Regions from separate parts of the Homo sapiens genome. Here region 2 is linked to region 1. Evidence: fine-mapped QTL for protein levels in blood plasma. A gene starts in region 1. The other region holds a variant in brackets. All regions are shown on one strand. Distances are between the middles of the regions. Region 1 holds the start of IL34 (interleukin 34). Region 2 overlaps IL34 (interleukin 34).

The links. PIP is the posterior inclusion probability: the model's chance that the variant is causal. The UK Biobank Pharma Proteomics Project read protein levels with antibody pairs (Olink). The fine-mapping took linkage between variants from a reference panel, not from the people measured, so its PIPs are less certain.
Region 2: its variant is fine-mapped to the plasma level of the IL34 protein (UK Biobank, PIP above 0.99). The variant lies in the coding sequence of IL34. If it changes the protein, the assay may bind it differently, which can mimic a change of level.

What each region holds. Positions count from the first base shown.
Region 1 is chr16:70,642,679-70,651,008 of GRCh38, reverse strand. It overlaps IL34 (interleukin 34), which reads right to left and starts at 4,450. Exons shown (of 6, transcript NM_001393494.1): 1 at 4,034-4,450. The coding sequence starts at 4,061. RefSeq lists an enhancer at 718-1,218.
Region 2 is chr16:70,653,516-70,660,499 of GRCh38, reverse strand. IL34 (interleukin 34) reads right to left here. Exons shown (of 6, transcript NM_001393494.1): 2 at 5,829-5,962; 3 at 3,821-3,898; 4 at 3,379-3,540; 5 at 747-882; 6 at 1-503. The coding sequence ends at 313. Among named protein-coding and RNA genes, the nearest start is that of IL34, 10 kb to the right of the region's middle. The variant G/T (reference allele first, on the strand shown) is at 403.

The DNA of each region.
Region 1 (8,330 bases):
TTGAACTCCTGACCTCGTGATCCACTCACCTCGGCTTCCCAAAGTGCTGGGATTACAGGCGTGAGCCTGTGTGTGAATCCATAACGCAGTTAAACACTGCACAGCCCAGCGTGCTGAGAACTTCACATGTGCATTTGGGGATTCGCCTCAAGCAGTAGAAATGGGAGCAGACATTGTCATCCCTTGCAGAGCTCGTTAAGGCACAGGTTGTCCTGCCTGCCCCAGAGTCTCTGCTCAACCAGTCTAGGATGCAGAGAGTCTACCTTTCTAACAAGGTCCCAGGTAAAGCTGTGGCTGGGGGTCTGGAACCACAGACCTAGAGCAACAGTTGCAAGCTGGTGTCCCGAGAGCCACCTCTGGTCCACAAGGATTTCACACAACAATTCAAAATTTCAGCTTTTCTTTAAAAAAATCAGTACCTCTGTCCACACTGGGTCTTTTTTCCTGTGTGGCCATCACCATTGGCCGTCTACTTCACCTCCCAACCCTACAGCACCTGCCCTTCTCTGTGTCCCGTTCTGGGGCCCTGGGGACCCGGCAGCTGTGGCCTCAAGGCAGGGACTGTGCCTTGGAGTGACACTGAGCCTCCCAGCCTGACACGGTGGGCACACAGCTGCCCTGGAAACCCTGTCCACAGATGATCTGCCTCTCCCCCAACTGGGCAGCCTTCCTCTGAGTGCAGCCCAAACATCATTGCTAAGGGCAAGTTTCTTTTTTTGCTGCCTCCACCCACCCAGAGAAACAGGTTAACAAACAGGGACCAGGCAGGGACAGCACAGCCCCAACCTCAAGGCCACTGTCCCCCACATGCTCTGCACACCAGGAACCCCACAGCCAGTGCCACCCCTGACCTTGGTCAGGAGACCCACCCTGCCCTTGTCTTAGCCCAGAGGTAAGAACCCACAACACAGGCTGGGCACGGAGGCTCACACCTGTAATCCCAGCACTTTGGAAGGCCGAGGTGGGCGGATCACCTGAGGTCAGGAGTTCAAGACCAGTCTGGCCAACATGGTGAAACCCCATCGCTACTAAAAATACAAAAATTAGCCAGGCGCAGTGGCAGGTGCCTGTAGTCCCAGCTACTCGGGAGGCTGAGACACAAGAATCATCTGAACCCAAGAGGCAGAGGATGCAGTGAGCTGAGATCGTGCCGCAGCACTCCAGCCTGGGTGACAGAGTGAGACTCCGTCTCAAAAAATAAAAATAAAAATAAAATAATAAAACAACCTGCAAGACAGAGAGGAGGCTTAAGAAAGATCTGTGTGAGTACGGTACTCCCTTCCTGGTTCCCTGGCCCTGGGTTGACCCTATGTGCAGTGACAAGTGAGGCTTGTCACCCCCAGCCCCGGGGACCAAATCTGAACCTGTGCAGTGGGTTAAATAGCATCTCCTCCAAATCCACATTCACCCGAACCCGAGTGTGACCTTGTTTGGAAATGGGGTCTTTGTGAAGTAGGAGGTAGGACCGACTCCAGAGGCAGAGCCCTGACACTGGACCAAACTGAGGACTAGTGAAAACAGGGGTGGACGGGGCAGAAGCAGCATTCCAAAAGACATGCTCAGCAGTGTGCCATGTCAGTTTACCATTGCCATGGCAACGCCTGGGAGTTACCACCGCTTTCCATAGCAATGACCCAATGTCCCAAAAGTTACTACCCCTTCCCTAGAAATGTCTGCATAAACTGCCCCTTAATCTGCATGCAATTAAAGGTGGGTATAAATATGACTGCAAAAGGCCCCGAGCTGCTCCTCAGTACGCTTCCTCTGGCACAGCCCTGCTCTGCAGGAGCTGGCACAGAGCTATAACATCTCTTCAGTAAAGCTGTTTTCTTCTACCACCAGCTTGCCTTGAATTCTCTCCTAGGGAAAGCCAAGAACCCTCGCAGGCTAAGCCCCCTTGGGGGCTCGCCTGTCCTGTGCCACTTACAGGCATTATTAAATGAAGGATGTCAAGATTAGGCCATCCTGGATTTAGGCAGTTCCCTAAATCCAGTGACTAGTGTCCTAGGAAGAAGAGGAGAGGACATAGAGACACACAAAGGGAAAGGCCACGCAAAGACAAAGGGAGATCTGAGTGACTAGGCCACAAGCCAAGGAAGCCAGGAGCCACCAGGAGCTGGAAGAGGCAAGGGAGGCTCCTTCTCGGCACCTTTAGAGGGAACGCAGCCCTGCAGGCACCCTGATCTCACACTTCCGGTCTCCAGAACTGTGAGACGACACATTCCTGTTGCTCTAAGCCACCCGAAGCTTTCTAATTGGTTATGGCAGCCCAACTTCCTCAGCACCCCAGCCCCTGGGCACCAGCCCCCACCTCAATCTGCTGCTCTCCCTCTCCCTCATCCCCCAGCCAGTCTTTGCCTGGTCCTAAGACCCACCCCTCCTGGAGCTTTTTCCCCTCTCCCTTGCTTTTCTTTCTCTCTTTTTCTTTTCTCCTTTTTTTTTTTTTTTTTTTTTTTAAAGACAGGGTCTCACCCTGTTGCCCAGGCTGCAGTGCAGTGATGCGATCCTTGCTACTGCAGCCTCAACCTCCTGGGCTCAAGTGATCCTCCCACCTCAGCCTCCTGAGTAGCTGGGATTACAGATGTATGCCACCACACCTGGCTAATTTTCCTTTTTTTAGAGATGGAGTCTCGCTATGCTGCCCAGCCTGGTTTCAAACTCCTGGCCTCAAGCCGTCCTCCTGCCTTGGCCTCCCACAGTGCTGGGATCACGGGCGTGAGCCACCAGCCCAGCATCCCTTGCCTTTCATTCGCACCTCCACCTCCAGAATGACCCTCATTCCCTCCTGCACAGACGGTGACAGCAGTAACTCCTACAAACACCACCAGACTGATCTTCAAGAGCAGAGGAACTCCCAATCACGATTCCACCCCCGCCGGGCTCTCAAATCCTCCAGGGCTGCCTGCTATGGGGAGGGAGGCACACTTTGCTTGGCTCTCAAGGCCTCAGCCAGCCGGGTCCAAACCAGCTCCCAGCCTGGCCTCACCATCCCACCGCCAAACCTTTGCTCACACTGGCCCCTCTTCCTGGAACATGGGCCTCATGACCCCAGGTCTACCTGTGTGACCACCACCCCACCTTCTAGACCATTTCCAGTAGCCCCTCCCCCATGCTGCACCCCTGCTTCTCATGACCTAGGGGTTTCCAGAACATTGGGTCCAGCTGGGTCCTTCCACCCATCCTTAATGTCCCAACCCTTTGTTGTATATTTCCACAAGGGCCAGGGTGGACCCAACTCTTCTTTCAATCCCTCGCAGGCTCATACCCCAAACCTCCAACAGTTCCTGAGCACTCAACCCTGTGCCAGGCGTTGGAGACAGAGGCACGAGACAGCAAGGTCCTTGTTGTCATGGCAGTGACTCTGCAGTGGGCACGTGGGAGGCACCGGAAAAATGTGTTGAATTTGAGTCAATTGAACTGGATCTTGGAGACTGAGGGGATCTTGGTCTGGCCTCCCAGCCAGCAGGCATAAGAGGCTTCCAGATCCTTTTTTTCCTTTCTGTCCTCATTTCAACTTATTTTTCTTTTTACCAACAGTGTTATCTTTCTGCTTTTTAATTCTGTTCTGTTATGGAGGGAGGGTTGGAGGGGAACAGGCTGCCTTCTCCAGGCATCTGGCTGCTCTTCTGCCGTGGGTCTTGGGTCCCTAGACACTTTCACCAGCCCCTGCCCCCCTCCACCGGCCATACCCAGGACTGGGCCGCTGCTGCCCGCCCGGGGCTCCCCAACACCCACAAGCCTGGAAAGGTGAGATGCTGCCACCTACCCCCAGTGCCTGCCCCGACCTAAGACCACCCTGAGGACCATGCCCACCCAGCCAGAACTGCCCACCCAGCTTGCCCGTCGGAGCCCGAAGTGAGCGGCAGACAGGGCAGACGGCGGCCGTGGGAATCTCAGAGGGTGTCTGCAGTCCGGCTGGGAAGCATCGCAACTTCTCACCAGCAAGAATGCCCTGGTTGCTATGGTTACGGCAGATCCTGGATCTAGGCCAAGGCCTCCCAATGCAGGTCCCTAGGGACCCCCCAGTACTCACAGCGCAGCCAGGTGAAGCCCCGGGGCATGGTGGTGTTCCTCGTCCCCCTGAGAGCTCAGGCGCCGTCCCCAGCAGTGTGTCCACAGAGGCCTAAGCACGGCCTACATGGCCTCGGGGCAGCAGAGGTGGTCACTCAGTCAGGGAAGGGCTGGCCCTGGAGGAGTGGCTGGGCTGCGGGAGTGAGCAGGTGCCCCAAGGGCAGCAGCTGCCCTTATCTGCCCGGCAGCGTGGAGGACAGCCGGGGGGCGGTGGCCGCAAGTCCCATGGCAGCCCAGAAGCAGGTCTGAGCCGGTGGCTTGGGGGTCTTTCGGGGTCTTCCTTTCCAAGGAGCAGGAGGAGAGAGTCCCTGGCAGGCCCCTCGGAATCTGGGGCTGGGTGACGCTTTCTCTGATTTCTCCGACTGCAGCTGCTCAGTGTGAAATCTGGCTCTAGGAAGAGAAAGGAGGAGAGAAACTGATTATGTAAGAGCAGCGCTGCCACTCAGCCATCAGCCACAGCGCACACCGCACCCACGGCCTGCACAGGACCACCCGGCCCTGGCAGCTGGACACGGCTCACGTGAGAAATGACTTCAGGATGTCCGAACGGCCCTGGCCCATGAGTGAGTTATGATGACACCAGCTGGCAGCCTGGGGCCTGAACAAAAGCAGGACCAAGGAATGAACAGGTGGTTTGAGTTCACACATCGAGAGCCATGGTAGAGTCCATGAATGACTCAGGCTAAAGGACAGGTTAAAAAAGCAGACGAGCTCCCACTCCGAAAACAAGCCGGACGCAATGGCTCATGCTTGTAATCCCAGCACTTTGGGAGGCCAAGGTGGGAGGATTGCGTGAGCCCAGGAGTTCGAGACCAGCCTGGTCAGCATAGTAAGACCTCAGTTCTATTAATAAAAAAAAAATTAAGAAAAAAAAAATTTTTTTGAGACGGAGTCTCAGACTCTGTCATCCAGGCTGTAGTGCAGTGGCGTGATTTTGGCTCACTGCAGCCTCCACCTCCAGGGTTCAAGCAATTCTCCTGCTTCAGCCTCCCAAGTAGCTGGGATTACAGATGTGCACTACCATGCCTGGCTAATTTTTGTATTTTTAGTAGAGATGGGGTTTCACCATGTTGGCCAGGCTAGTCTCAAACTCCTGGACTCAAGTGATCTGCTGTCTTGGCCTCCCAAAGTGCTGGGATTACAGGCGTGAGCCACCGCACCCGGCCAGGACTAAGGTCTTTACATTCACTGAATCTCTCACAACAATCTCATGGAAGTGCAAAATCTCAGTTTATCAATGAGGAAACTGAGGCCCAGAAAGGTTAAGACACTTGTCCAAGGTCATACGGCTTGTAAGAAGTGTGACAGGAATTCAAACCCTGTGGGCTGGTGGCTGCTCCCAAAATTCGACAACCACACAGGGCTCAGCGTGTGTGCGTGGTCCTCCCATCTGCCCCTCTGGACTCTGCAAGGTCTGGACCATTGTGTCTGCTCTGCAGATCAGGCTGGAATTCCGTCTCTGATTTAGTTCTCTTCCATCCCCTCGCCTCCTCCCTGTCTCCCCTCTGGTGGGGGAAAATGGCTACAGAGTGACACCATCGGGGGAGAGCAGGTATGACTTGGGCATCTTCTTCATTGTGTGATCCATGGTGTCACCAAAGAATGCTGGCCCTTACCCTAAGAGGTGCCCAGCAGGCAGGCAGGGCCTTATAGAGAGAACACGGGTTGTTCAAGTTAATCCCTTATGCAGTCACCCTGAATCTCAGCCCCAGTCGCTGCCTGCTGCTGCTCCTCTTTTCCTTGTCCTTCCTCCTTTTCCTCCTTCCTCTTCCTCCTTCTCTTCCTCCTCCTCCTTCCTCGTCTTCCTCCTTCCTCCCTCTTCTTCCTCCTCTTTCCCCCTCCTCCTTCCTACTCTTCCCTCTTCCTTTCTCCTTCCTTCTCTTCCTCCTTCCTCGTCCTCCTTCCTTTTTCCTTCTCCTCCTTCCTCCTCTTCCTCTTCTTCCTCCTTCCTCCTACTCCCTTTCTCTTCCTCCTTCCTCCTCCTCTTCCTCCTTCCTCCTCTTCCTCCTTCCTCCTCCTTCTCCTCCCTCCTCTTCCTCCTTCCTCTTCCACCTCCTTCCTCTTCCTACTTCCTCCTCTTCCTCCTCTTCCCTCCTTCCTCTTCCTCCTTCCTCCTCCCTTCCTCCTTTTCATTCCTCCTCCCTCCTCCTTTTCCTCCCTCCTCCCTCCTCCTTTTCCTCCCTCCTCCCTCCTCCTCTTCCTCTTCCCCCTCCCCCTCCTCCTCCCCCTCCTCCTCCTCCTCACCCTGGCAATTCCCCTGCTGTTACAGCATCACTACAAACACTAACGTATCTAGAACATTTAGTTGTCATTAGTTTGGGGATTTTTTTCAGGTTTATTGAGGGCTAATTTACATATACTACATTTTACCCTTTTCAGTATACATTTCTAAAAGTTTTTAGCACATTTATAGAGCTGTGTAATTACTATAATAATCAAGATACAAAACATTTCCATCTACCCAAAAAATTCATTCCTTTATAGTGGAAGTTGTCTAAACAAACTGAAACAAGGTAGAATAGTATAACAGACCCCCATATAGCAGTTACTCAGATTCAAAAATTGTCAATCTGGCTGGGTGCAGTGTCTCACACCTGTAATCCCAGCACTTTGGGAGGCCGAGGCGGGTGAATCAGTTGAGGCAGAATAAACTCCAAGGAGAAGGGGAAAAAACAACTTCAAATACCAATAGAAAAACAAAAAAGTTATTTCCACAGAGTTGTCCATAAAAGGTCAGGACTTTGAGACCAGCCTGGCCAACATGGTGAAACCCTGTCTCTACTAAAAATACAAAAATTAGCCAGGTGTGGTGGTGCATGCCTGTAATCCCAGCTACTCAGGAGGCTGAGGCAGCAGAATCACTGGAACCCAGGAGGCGGAGGTTGCAGTGAGCCAAGATTGCTCCACTGCCCTCCAGTCGGGGCAACAGAGCGAGATTCTGTCTCAAAACAAAAGAAAAAAATGATCACTCTTCTGTCATTCCAGCTTCACTCATCCCCCAATTTTTTTTTCCAGGAATATTTTAAAGCAAATCTCAAACATGCCATTTCACCAGCATGTAGGGATTTTTAAAATATATAATCACAATATTGTCATCACACAACCCTCAAATTAATAACTCTTTAATATGATTTCATATAGAATCCACGTTCAATTTTCCCTGGTTATTTTTTAAATCTCTGATGTGCATCTTAAGTCTTTTTTCTTTTTAAAAATCAATATATAATTTGCATGCCATAAAATTTACCATTTTAAAGTGTACAGGCTGCGTGTGATGGCTCACACTTGTAATCCCAGCACCTTGGGAGGCCAAGGCCGGGGGATCGCTTCAGCCCAGGGCTTTGAGACCAGCCCGGGCAACATAGTGAGAACCCGTATCTACCAACAAAAATTTTTTTAATTAGGTGGGTGTAGTGGCACGGGCCTGTGGTCCCAGCTACTTGGGAGGCTGAGATGGGAGGATCACTTGAGCCAGGGAGGTCAAGGCTGCAGTGAACCATGATCACGCCACTGCACTCCAGCATGGGTGACAAAGCAAGACCCTGTCTCAAAATAAATAAATAAAGTGTGCAACAGCCAGGTGCAGTGGCTCACTCCTGTCATCCCTGCAGTTTGGGAGGCCAAGGCAGGTGGATCACCTGAGGTCAGGGATTCGAGACCAGCCTGGCCAATATGGCAAAACCCTATCTCTACTAAACATACAAAAGATTAGCCAGGCACGGTGGTGCGCACCTGTAATCCCAGCTACTCAGGAGGCTGAGGCAGGAGAATCACTTGAACCCGGGAGGCAGAGGTTGCAGTGAGCCGAGGTAGTCCCACTGCACTCCAGCCTGGGTGACAGAGTGAGATCCGTCTCAAAAATAAATAAAAATAAATAAAAATAAATAATAAAGTGTACAACTTTGTGGGTTTTTAGTGTACTAAGTTGTGCAACAGTCACCATTATTTAATTACAGAACATTTTCATCACCCCCAAAATAAACTCTGAACTCATTAGCAGTCACCCCCTATTCCCTCTTCCTCCCAGCCCCTGGCAGCCACTAATATTCTTTCTGTCTCTATGGATTTGCCTATTCTGGACATTTCATATAAATGGGATTGATTATGCAATACGGGACCTTTCATGTCTGGCTTCTTTCACTTAGCATGTTTTCAGGGTTCATTCATTTTGTAGCATGTTATGAACTGAATGTTTGTGTCTCTCCAAAATACATGTGTTGAAGTTGTAACCCCTAATGTGGTGGTTCCTGGAGATGAGG
Region 2 (6,984 bases), 10 kb before region 1:
GGCCACAGGAGGCTCAGTACCCCCTTTAGGCGGGGGGACAGTGAGGGCAGCACCAGGAGAAGCCAGGAGCTGTGTCCCCATCCACCTTCAGGTCCCCAGGTCCCCTCCGCTCCAGGTGAGGCCATGACAGCTATGGAAGGCAGGAAGCTGAGCCCTGCTGTGGCACAGAATCCCCCTCAAAGGAAAAACACCCTTCCCAGGGGTCCTCTCCCAAGGGGGGCTCCCACCACCACCCCTTGAAGTCTCAGACCCAGTTGAACTCCTGTGGGAGCTGGTCTGGCTGCCCCTATCCGCAGTCACCATCCAGGGTGCTCAGGGCAAGAGGCCCTCGCCCTGTGCCCTGACCGGCCTCACCGAGCCCGTGGAGTGAGGCGGGGAGCTGGGGGACCACGGGGGCGGAGG[G/T]TACAGCTGGGTGGCCGCATACTGCAATGAGGGCTCTGGGCTGCAAGACTGAGGACTTGGCACCTCACAGTCCTGCCAGTTTAGGACGGAGCTTTGTTTACCTGCAAGAGATAGGGGAAAAAAAAAAAGACTGCAGCAGTGTTCAAGACCACCCTCCCCACTAAGCCAAGCCGCATGTGCTTGTCCCCCACTCTACCCAGGGCCCATCCTGGCTTCCAGAAATGGCTTGTAGCCCCGGGGAGCAGAGGATATGCCCGGGAGGACGCCAGCTCTGCCAGCTGGCCTGGGTGGGCCCAGATGCCTGGCCTCCCACCCCCAGGCGCCATCCCCTGAGAGCTCCTTACAGCAGGAGCAGTACAGCAGCTCCATGACCCGGAAGCAGTTGTCCAGCAGGGCTTTGGGCCGCACCAGCTTCAGGTTTGGCCCTGGGGCATTCAAGAGGGACAACACGGATTCCACCTTGGGGCTGACCTCCACATCCTGGAAAGGAGGAAACAGTCAGGAGCGGTGGCGAGATGGGGCCGCACCCCAGGAGAGCCGTGAGGGCTGTCCAGTCACCTGGAGCTGCCCAAACCCCGGAAGAAGGACCAGACTTCCTGTGACCATGAGCCTGGATAGCTATTTCTCACCATCTTCTTCCTGTGGGCATGGGGAGGGTCCCAGATGCCACCACTCACCCATGTACAACTCAGAGGCTTCGCTTTTCCATCCTTGAAAAATGAGTAAAGGGCGTAGACCAGGACAGTGAGGAAAGTGGGGCAAACTGCACCCAGGCACGGCCACCCACCACTGCGTGAGGACCCCCTGACCTGGGGAAAACTGTCCCTCAAGAAGCAGACATCTCCATCAACTCCAAGGAACAAGAGAAGGTCCTCACAGAGACACTGAGGCTTAAGTCACATACACAGGGCAGGGTGTCCAGCTTCAAGCTGGGGTGCTTTCTCTCCACGATATGCAACAACAGGGTCATGTGGGGTGCACCGTGGCACCAAGGGAATCAAGTCCCTGAACAGGAGGTCAGGGCCACTGTAGAAAGCATCATGGGAAACGTGGGGGGTGATCTTCTGGAAGGGGGTGACAACAAGGCAACATGTCCTGGGCCAAATTGTCCCTCTCCTCCCCCAAAAAGCTGTCTTGGTCCTACCCCTTGGTACCCGTGAATGTGACCCTATTTGGAAATAGGTTCTTTGCAGAGGTAATTAAGTTCAGGATCTTAGAAGGACATCATCCTGGATTTCAGGTAGGCCCTAAATCCAATGCCTGATGTCCTTGTAAGAGAAAGGTGACAGACATGGAAACAGGGCAGAAGGCCATGAAAAGACTGAGACGGCCAGGAATGGTGGTTCAACCTGTAATCCCAGCACTTTGGGAGGCTGAGGGAGGCATATCACTTGAGGCCAGGAGTTCAAGACCAGCCTAACCAACATGGCAGAACCCCGTCTCTACTAAAAATACAGGTGTGGTGGCAGGCATCTATAATCCCAGCTACTTGGGAGGCTGAGGCAGGAGAATTGCTTGAACCTGGGAGACGGAGGTTGCAGTGAGCCAAGATTGCCCCACTGCAATGCACCTGGGCGACACAGTGAGACTCCGCCTCAAAAAAACAAAAAAAGCCACCACAGAGGCCAGGCAGGATGTAATCCCAGTCCTGTAATCCCAGGACTTTGGGAGGCTGAGGCAGAAAGATCACTTGAGGCCAGGGGTTCAAGACCAGCCTGGGCAACATAGCGAGACCCCCATCTCTAAAACAATAAAAAAGAAATAAAATGAAATAAACAGGAAAAAGAGCCACCAAGCAGATCAAGGAGTCTCCTGACTTTGTAGGAATTGACAGCCTCCCCACCAGTCTGGTTCCAGGAAAGCTCCAGGCAGCTGCAAAACAGGTGCTAGTCCCTAAGCCCTTTCACCGTCGGAAGCTCACAGTTGGCCTGGGATGTTCTCCCGACAAGCTGGGCCTTGTCAGCAGCTGGCTGGGCAGGGCAGCAGGTGGATCCCAGGGACAGGTGTGCACCAGAGTCCTGAGGAGGTCTGGTGGAGACGGGGAGAGGTCCCACCGCACACACGGCCTGCATGGGTCATCTCGCCACCTTCCTTTTTTACTACAACTCAGGCATTTTAGAGGATAATATCCCTGAGGCCTCAGATCAATTTCTCTGAGCGGGTCAGGGATGGGGGACCTCTTTTTTTAATTAACTAAAGTCCATAATTTACATTAGGGCTCACACTCTCTGTTGTACAGTTCTGTGGGTTGTGACAAATGCATGATGTCATGTATACAACATGAATGCATTATACAGCATAGTTTTTTGTTTTTTGTTTTGAGATGGAGTTTTTCGTTCTTGTTGCCCAAGCTGGAGTGCAATGGTGCAATCTCAGCTCACTGCAACCTCTGCCTCCCAGGTTCAAGCGATTCTCCTGCCTCAGCCTCCTGAGTAGCTGGGATAACAGGTGCCCACCACCAGGACTGGCTTATTTTTGTATTTTTAGTAGAGACGGGGTTTCACCATTTGGCCAGGCTGGTCTCAAACTCCTGACCTCGGCCTCCCAAAGTGCTGGGATTACAGGCATGAGCCGCCGCGCCCGGCCTGCAGCATGTTTTACTGCCCTAAACATTCCCTGTGCTCCATCCATTCTTCCCCTCTCCCCCTACCCCACCTCCAGGACCCTCGTGTTGCAGAAACAAAGAGGGTACGATGACTTGCCCAGGATCCAGAGGGAGAGAGGCAGAGCCTAGAACAGAGTCTCAGAGGCATCGCCTGCACCCCGAGCCCGGCTCTCATGACCACCACGGCTGCCTCTTCCTTCCACAGGCCTCTTTTCCTGCACCCCTCCCCCACTTCTCCCACGTCCCTCTGCTTGTGCCCATCTTTCCGTGTATTCACCCTTTCCCTCACTAGCCTTTGGCCACACCTCACACACATGTACACACGTGTGCACACACACACACCCCACCTGCCACTCCTCCACACAACTCACCGTGAGGCCCTGCTGGACATTCAGCAGCAGCGTCTCCACCTCCTGCAGGTACTTCCAGGATGGGTGGCCCTCGAGCAGCACGTCCTGCACCGACTCAGTGGCACTGAGGCTCACCAAGACCCACAGATACCGCAGCTCCCGCTCGCTCACCTGGGCCCTCTGCTGCGGAAACAGGGAAGTCACTGCAACTCGGGAGACATGGGCCTCTGGGCTCTGACCACTCCCTCACCAGGGACTTGCCCCTGCATAGGGAGCAGACGCGGGCCGTCCGCTGTGGACAGTGGACAAACATGTGCCTGGGCCAAGGGCCAGCCTGCTCTCGGGGCTGAGGAGAGGCCCCAGGCCAGCAGCACCACCTGCCAGTCCCAGCGCGCCTCTGAGGCTGGGGCCCACCGGATGTCGCAGGAGGCAGGGTCCCCCCAGCCCAGGAAGGGATTCTCACCAGCCTGGTGACGTTGGCGATTCTGAACACCCCCTCGTAAGGCACACTGATCTTGTAGTTGATGGGGAAGTAGTGTTTCTGGAGAGGCACAAGAACAAACTATGAGGCCAGAAGTAGAAATGACCAGCAGGCTCCCCAACCTCCCAAATGATGTTTTTTTTAACAGTTAGTCTCACTCTGTCACCCAGTATGGAGTGCAGGGGCAGCATCATGGCTCACGGAAGCCTTGACCTCCCAGGCTCAAGCAATCCTTCCACCTCAGCCTCCCAAGTAGGTGGGACTACAGGTGTGTGCCACCACGCCCAGATGATTTTTTTATTTTTTGTAGAGATGGGGTTTCTTCTTGTTGCCCAGGCTGGTCTTGAATCCCGGGCTCAAGCCCCTCAAAGTGCTGGGGTTATAGGTATGAGCCACCATGCCCGGCCTCCAGATGAATTTTGATGTAGGAGGAGAGAACTCAGGGCCCAGACCTTTGACGGCAGAGGTGGTCCTGTGCAGAGAGGTGTGCCTGGCTCCCAGCTGGGATAAAAACACTTCACTTTCCTCTGGGACTCAGGGTGGGTGAAACAAAATACACAGTTCCTGTTAAGGCAGAAATTTCAGGCTCAAGAGTGAGGACACGTTACTTCAAGAAAAACATGTTATTTTGTGGGTGAGAATGTTCTAAAACCTATGATGGTGATGGTTGCACAACTCTGTGAACTAAAAACTCTTTGAGTTGTGCACTTTAAATGAGTAAATTATGTCTTTTATATATAAATATGTAAATTATATCTCAGTAAAGCTGTTAAAATAAAAAAGACACAAGCCAGGTGCAGTGGCTCACGCCTGTAATCCCAGCACCTTGGGAGGCTGAGGAGAGACAGTCACTTGAGCACAGGAGTTTAAGTTTACACTGAGCTATGATCCCGCCACTACACTTCAGCCTGGACAACAGAGTGACACCCTGTCTCTAAAAATTAAATTAATTAATTTAAAAAGATACATTGGTCAGGCATGGTGGCTCACACCTATAATCCCAGCACTTTGGGAGGCCAAGGTGGGCATATTGCTTGAGCCCAGGAGTTCAAGACCACCCTGGGCAACATGGTGAACCCCTGTCTCTACTCAAAAAAAAAGTTTTAATTAGCTGGGCATGGTGGTGCATGCCTGTAGTCCCAGCTACTTGGGAGGCTGAGGTGGGAGGATCATTTGAGCCTTGGAGGTGGAGGTTGCAGTGAGCTGAAATTATCCACTGCACTCCAGCCTGGGCAACAGAGCAAGACCCTGTCTCAAAAGAAAAGAAAAGGATTTTTAGGAAAAGTTAAAAAATTAAAAAGAAAAAAAAAGGGCCGGGCGCAGTGGCTCACGCCTGTAATCCCAGCACTTTGGGAGGCTGAGGCAGGCGGATCACGAGGTCAAGAGATGGAGACCATCCTGACTAACATGGTGAAACCCCGTCTCTACTAAAATTGCAAAAATTAGCTGGGCATGGTGGCGCGCACCTGTAGTCCCAGCTACTCGGGAGGCTGAGGCAGGAGAATCACTGGAACCGGGGAGGTGGAGGTTGCAGTGAGCCAAGATTGAGCCACTGCACTCCAGCCTGGTGACAGACCAAGACTCCGTCTCAAAAAAAAAAAAAGATACATAGAGCCACACAGACATCTCCACTCTGCAAAAAGAACCAAATATTCCGATTTCTAGGTCTTTAGCTCCCTGGCTAATAAGTGCCTGGGGTTTGTCAAAGAGCTCCAGGTGTCCATTCCTGAGTCATATGGTGACTGCCATCATGGAGGTGGGATTAAAGTGAGATCGAGGAGGAGGGGTGGAGGCCCCAGGAGATGGCAGGAGGAGGGTCAGTAAGTGCAGACCAGGTGCATGGGTAGGTTTCGGAGAAAGGCAGAGAAACAGGCCATGGTCGGCTCAGGGCTGACACAGGTCCTAAGAAGGGCTCTGAATGTCCAGAGGCCTATGCCAGGTGAACCCCGGGACGCGGGGACAGGGACACAGCTGGTGCCCACGTGGTTACCATGTACTGAAGTCGGCTCCTGTACTGCAGCTTGTCCCGCAGAAAACCCGTGACAGTGCACTCCTCATTCTGCGTCAAGGGCCACATCTCCAAAGGCTCATTCCCCAAGGCCACGCCAAGGAAGATCCCAAGATCTGTGGACCACACCCGACAAGAGCACATGAGCACCCTCCATCTCATCCACGCCGTCCACAACACGCAAAGCCGAGCACAACCATCATCCATTTGCATAGGAGACAAGCACCAATGGGAAAGGTGTGGTGGGGGGCACGGGATCTGGAATGCTTTCCCTGGGGTCTGGCTCCAGAACAGCAAGGTCAGGCAGGCACTAGCAGTGCAGAGAGTCCACACCCACCCCATGCCGGCCACTGGAGCCCCCCAGGAGGCACGCCTCAGGGTCGACGTCTGGTCTCCCCGCTTCTGTCGCTCCGTGGGGCAGGCACAACCTCCCGCCCAGAACAGCCTCTGCCCCTGGTGTCCGGGTGATATGTTTTCAAAGCTCGTTGCTGGGTTTTCCAGCCCGGCATTCAGGAGATCGAATCATCCTGGATTCTGGTTTCAACTTGATAAAATGACTCTTCAGTCACCCACGCCCCACACCACTTTCCTTCCTGCTCTATCTGATCTTAGTGTCCCTCCCAGCTAACTATGCCAGCGGGTCTGTAGCGCCTTCCAGTCTGGTCATTCTAGGACGTTAAGCAGATCTCATACTTGGCTGCCTCTCTTCCTGCAACAAACGAGCCGCTGAAACATTACCATCCTTTGCCACTGGGGGTCACTGTGACTCCAAAAACAGCCTATACGATTTCCATGTGACTGAACAGAAAAAAAGGAGAGAATTCGCAACAAATATGAATAAAGGTTAAGTCCATCAGAGCAGAAAGAATAAAACAGAAGTAGGCCAGCAACTACCCAAAATATCAGACTCACTAACTAGATAAATAAATTCACATTAAAACAATCAGATATAATTTTTCTTTTTCTTTTTTTTGGTCACCCTGGCTGGAGTGCAGTAGTGGGATCATGGCTCATTGCATCCTAGAACTCCCAGACTCAAGCGATCCTTCTGCCTCAGCCTCCAGAGTAGCTAGGACTACAGTTGCATGCTACTACGCCTGCTAATTTTTGTATTTTTTGTAGAGACCTGGTATCGCCA